2 separate regions of the Homo sapiens genome follow, and region 2 is linked to region 1. The links come from fine-mapping of genetic effects on gene expression. A gene starts in region 1. The other region holds a variant in brackets. All regions are shown on one strand. Distances are from middle to middle.

The links. PIP is the estimated chance that this variant, and not a neighbour inherited with it, causes the effect.
Region 2: its variant is the best candidate, but not a certain one, in a credible set for the expression of CCDC28A-AS1 in thyroid (GTEx, PIP 0.51).

The regions. Positions count from the first base shown.
Region 1 is chr6:138,772,345-138,775,260 of GRCh38, forward strand. It overlaps CCDC28A-AS1 (CCDC28A antisense RNA 1), which reads right to left and starts at 1,359. Exons shown (of 3, transcript NR_161205.1): 1 at 1,171-1,359. It overlaps CCDC28A (coiled-coil domain containing 28A), which reads left to right and starts at 1,425. Exons shown (of 6, transcript NM_015439.3): 1 at 1,425-1,558. RefSeq lists enhancers at 476-1,150, 1,151-1,824, 1,188-1,237, 1,258-1,317, 1,678-1,737.
Region 2 is chr6:138,739,153-138,742,068 of GRCh38, forward strand. The region is part of intron 2 of CCDC28A-AS1 (CCDC28A antisense RNA 1); the gene reads right to left. Among named protein-coding and RNA genes, the nearest start is that of CCDC28A-AS1, 33 kb to the right of the region's middle. The variant CG/C (reference allele first, on the strand shown) is at 1,278.

The sequences.
Region 1 (2,916 bases):
GAAAAATGGGAAACAACCTAAACATCCATCACTATGGGAATTCCCAAATAATTTGTGACAAATCTATTTGATAAAGTCTAGCTATATTTATCAATGTGGATAGCTCTCAAAAACACAGAATTTGGTGAAAAAATCAAGTTGCAGATCAATACACAAAATATAATAGCATTCATGTAAAACTTCAAATGCCCCAAACCATTCTACATATTGTTTATAATACATAGTAATAGTTTAAATATAGAAACCTAGATTGGCAAGATACATATCAAATTCATGATCCTGGTTGCCTCTCTGAGGGTGGTAGTAGAATGGGACTGAGAATAGGGAACACCTTCTTTATCTGTAATGCTCCATTTCTTTCATTCATAAATCTGTTCGTTCTGGATAGTGGGTGCGTTGTTTATTCTGTGCTTTTTTTTTTTAACATTTCAATAGTTTTGTTTTTTTTTTTTAAATGGCGGGTGGCGGAAGAACATCCTATCCTAGAAGCCAAGAGACTGGGGTTGTCTTTGCTCTGCCTTTTCTGGCATGGATACAATCTCTAGATATGGTTTCCCCATTAGCTAATGCGGGGGGTGCTATGTGGTGTTCCTCCAGAGTCCCTTCAATCTAAGGACCTGTGAATCTAAAACCTTCCCACCTCCCACTCCAACACCGGGAAGGCTACCCAGACCAGGCAATGAAACGTGCATTTCTTCCCTCATTTAAGATAGATCTCTTTCTCTCAGCCTGCAATTCCTTCTCCAGAGGCTTTAAGTATAGTGGAAGTAGAACTATCTTTGACGACAGAGAGACACCTGCATCAATTAGCCTTTCTGAGCCTCAAATTCCCCATTTGTAAAACAGAGAGTATAACACCTACCCATAAAATTGTAGAGAGGTTTAGATACACCGTTATGTGTAGGGCCCGAACAGAGTAGCTATTAATAGTGGTAACAGACTCTCAATTAGGGGCTCAACATCATGGTCGCTGAACAGAATCACGGTCGCTGAACAGAATCACACTCTTCACGCCGCCTTGGAGCCAAAATTAGTTTAGCCGCGAGAAGTCCGGGCAACCAATCGGAAACAACCAAGGAACAGTTGCATGGCGACACTCTGGTTCCGCCTTCGGGCATGCTCGAACAGCATTCTGGGAATTGTAGTTCGGGGGGGGAATCTAACACTCACCGAGGGGCGGAGTAGCTTCCGGAAAGGGTACTGCATTTCCCGTTTCTACCTCCACTGCACCCGCTTATTGCGTCTTGCTCCTGGGTCACAGAGCCTAAAACGACACACCCAACACGCCCGCCGGAGTTACAGCTAAAGGAAGGACAGGGGAAGCAATGAAATGCCGAGGGCGGAGCCAAGAGCGACACTGGGGGAGCAGGAAAAGGCGGGGCTTCCGCTTGGGGCATGGAGGCTGTACCTCTTACGTCACTTCCGTAAACAAACGGAGCTGCGGAGGAGCGGGTCCCGGGATGTGACCGGGGCTCTGCTTGTGGCTGCGGCGGTGGCTTCTGAGGCTGTCGGGTCTTTGCGGGTTGCGGAAGGGGGCCCCAATACCCTTCTTCTTCAGGTATGTAGTGGAAGCAAAGGAACCTCCGCAACCTGCCCCTTTAGGCCCTTCCCACCACTCTGGTCACTGCTGGGTACTGGGCGGTGAAGGGTCATCGCTTCGGTAGATTGGGGAAGGGGAATGAGGTGATGTCAAGAGGGATGCCCAGTGGTACTGCTTGGAGGCAAGACCTGGCACTTAAAACCACTGTGTGAATAAGTAACTATGAGCAGTTTACTTATTATGCCTTCTCTAAAACATTCTTTGCTGTTTGATATACAGGAAGGGTTTCAGTGCTCTTGTGACAGATGTAATTTTCCAAAAACGAGGAAATCGCGAGTGCTGGCTCCGCAGAATATTGTGGTTTAGACCACCACTGGTTTATTTGCATTGCTTTACTTCCTAGATTTTTTTTTCTTGTACCACCAAGTGTGTATTAGCATCGTTAAATTTCAGGCCAGCGTGTTTATGCGTATCATACATTTTTACAGATCCTTGCCTCTTCAGAGAACTAATCGTCTCTATTCAGTCATCTTTCAAACTCTCATTTAATTTGTGTTGCATGTTGAAACAACACCAGAATTATTGTTCTGTTACAAAAAATGCTTCTTAAAAGAAAAATTGTTAGCCAAGGTTTAAGTGGATTGACACCCAGTGGTATCTGGGATTAGAGACTGGGCATTGGAGCCTTTCCCAGAAAGCCTCTTCTTTGGCAGTATTGTAGCTCCAGTTGTAATTGTCTAGCGTCAGCCAATTTAAGCTCAGTGGTTTAAATTCCAGTGCCAGTGGCACTAAGTCCAGGCAAAAGGAAAAAGAAAAATTTATTGAATTCATCAAATAATTATTTTAAGCGACAGCAATGGGTTTGAATCTTTTTGAATGGTCATGGCATGCCTAAATTAAACACAGCATGCCAAAAACGGCCTAATGTTTCTAGAAGGCAATTTACAACCTGATGAGGTAGAGATAGCCATATAAATTCATCTTATGATATATGAAATAATGAAGTTAAGAAAAATTTAACACTATGCACAAATAAAGTATGGAAGGGGTTTTTTTGTTTTGTTTTGTTTTGTTTTGTTTTGTTTTTGAGACGGAGTCTCGCTCTGTCGCAGTGGCACCATCTCGGCTCAGGGCAAGCTCCGCCTCCCGGGTTCATGCCATTGTCCTGCCTCAGCCTCCTGAGTAGCTGGGACTACAGGCGCCCGCCACCACTCCCGGCTAATTTTTTGTATTTTTAGTAGAGACGGGGTTTCACCGTGTTAGCCAGGATGGTCTCGATCTCCTGACCTCGTGATCCGCCCGCCTTGGCCTTCCAAAGTGCTGGGATTACAGGCGTGAGCCCGGCCGGAAGGGTATTTTTTAAATAGATGGATGTT
Region 2 (2,916 bases), 33 kb before region 1:
AGCCTCCTGGAAAAAAAAATATGGAGTCATACTTTTTTATTTTTCTTTTTATTTTTTTGAGACAGGGTCTCACCCTGTCACCCAGGCTGGAGTGCAGAGGCGTGATCATGGCTCACTTCAACCTCCATCTCCTGGGCTCAAGCCACCCTCCTGCCTCAGCCCCCCAAGTAGCTGGGACCACAGGAGTGTACCACCATACCCAGCTAAACATTTTCTTATTTTTTGTGGAGACGGGATCTTGCCATGTTGCACAAGCTGGTCTTGAACTCCTGGACTCAAGCAATCCTCCTGGAATTATAGGTGTGAGCCACTGCATCCCACCAGAGTTACTCTAATATGCTGCTCTTGACTCTTGGCCATGTTGATGTCCTATGTAAATGAGGTGGAGAAGCCAGAACTACTTTGGCAGAATATTGAGGAGGGAGTAATAAGGCACATGGCAGTGAAAATGTTAAAACAAAAAAATATGTATTACACTTATTAAATATGATCAGAAAACCCACTATCTGATTATATTTCCCAGGAATCCCTGAAAGATATTTGCTTCACTAAAGCAGTAAGAAATGCACCAAGGAAGTTTGTACTGGGATCTTTCAGAAACTCAATGACACATTTCTTCTATACGTTGAAGAGATGCAGTCTTGAAACTGGCCTTCTAGTATCAATGGACGTAATAAGATTCTGGAATGGCAGAGGCCAGGGAGTGGCACCTAACAGAGGCAATACGGACATCACTGCTATAATAGATAGCAAGGCTGGAATGGCGATCAGAGTGGCTTGACCTACAGACATCTGTGGTGATGGTTAATAGATCATGCTGTTCCTAGGAGCAAGACAGATGGATACCCAATCAATCAGGATGTTACTTATTTACCTTATAAAATAAAACACAAAACAATTGAAGAGAAGACTGACATCGGCTGCAAAGTGGAAAAATATTGTGGTCTCTCACCCAGTTTTTAGCCAGTTCATAGGTGACAGCCTGTGATCAAAGAGGAGTATATGTCTCCTTGAGGAAGGACCATCTAAAACCTGCTCAAGTATGTACGATAAACATTCCCCCAATTATTCCCCAAAAGCTCTTGCAGCCATTTACTAAAAAAACCGTACACTGGGGAAAGGCATTTTCCAGGCATTTTGAGGACTATTACATAACAGGGTCTGAACTGCCACCAAAACAAGCAAACATAAAATGCCATCATAGACCACTGGGTAGAGAAAGGACGTATGGAGGCCAGGTAATAAATGCAGTTCTGGCCCTAGTCCTCGTTACTATG[CG/C]TATTAGTCCGTTTTCACGCTGCTGCTGAAGATGTACCCAAGACTGGGCAATTTACAAAAGAAAGAGATTTAATGACTTACAGTTCCACATGGCTGGGGAAGCCTCACAATCATGGCGGAAGGCACGAAGGAGCAAGTCACATTCCACATGGATGGCGGCAGGCAGAGAGAGAGACTGGGCAGGGAAACTCCCCCTTATAATACCGAAGAATCTCATGAGACTTATTCGCTATCACGAGAACAGCATGGGAAAGACCTGCCCCCATGATTCAATTACCTCCCACCGAGTCCCTCCCACAACACGTGGGAATTCAAGATGAGATTTGGGTGGGGACACAGAGAAGCCATATCACTGTGAGTCCAAAAATTCTACAAAATAGAATCCTGAAGAATAGGAAATAACCTATTCTGTGGCTATATCCCCAGTTCTCATATGTGAAGTTTGAATGGACACACTTAACAGCTGGCCAAATTTTTACAGCCCCTGACCTATTGTCAAAAGTTATTGACCTATTACCAAAAGTTATTATGGTAAGAGTAGCTAGAAAATAACCCTGAAAAACGCCTCCTGCCACCAAAGTGCCAAGATAGCAAATCAGAAACACATCCCAAGAGGAATTCTGGGAATAAGCACAACTCAGATATTTAAAGGATGCAGACGTGTTGGTTTCCATCACATCCCTGTTTAATTTACCTATATGACTCCTGCAAATACCAGATAGATCATGATGGCTAATAGTGACATATTTTTTTCATTTTCATTTTAGCCACCCTCAGTCCCCCAACCAGGGTCCCCATCTTCCCTCCCCATCCCTGCTTAACCTCACTCAGAGCAGCCAAGCCCTCAGTCCCCAGCCCCAACTCTCAGCTTTCCTCCCTCATGACTTTGGGATCTGCATGGCTGTCCTTTCACACATCCCAGCAGCTTTTGATGCCAAGAACTCCATCACTGCTCCTTGATGCTTCTCCCTTTTCCACCGCTAGGACACCACCCTTACCTGGTTCACCTCCTACTTGGGCATCCAGAGTATTTGTCACTTTCTTGTGTTCTCTGCCATCTTTGAGATGTTAGGAGCCCCAGGGCTCAGTCTCAGGCCTTGTTCTCCACTGTGTTCTGGGGAGACGTCATCCTCTCTCCCAGCTTCAGTGCCTCCATCCCCCACCACACATTGATGCTTCCTGGACCATCTTTGTCTTTAGCCCATAAGATGCTTCTAGGTCCCTGCCCCCAGGGTCCAGCCCCCTCAGAGTGAACATGTCCCAAACCTGCCTTTGTACCTTCCCTGTGTATCTGCTCCTCCTAGTTGCCTAGACTTGAGCCCCATTCTCTACGGCCTGGACCATGCCCATCCTCCTTCGAGGCCTCCCCACCCTCAGTCTTCCCCTCTGGTCCAGACCTCTCGCCAGCCCCTAAGGAATATTCCAGATACACAGATCTGTCTGACACCCTCCTTACTGGCACTTGGAGGTCTTCACAGTCCCACATTTTCCTTTCCCAAATCTCACCCATGCATGGGAGGCTTCGTGGGTCAGAGCACAGTTTTGCAAGGTTCAGCTCTAAGACCATCTCCTCCAAGGAGCCTTCCCTTTCTCCTCCCACGTGAGTGCCCCTCCCCAGTTCCTCATTCCACCAGGTCC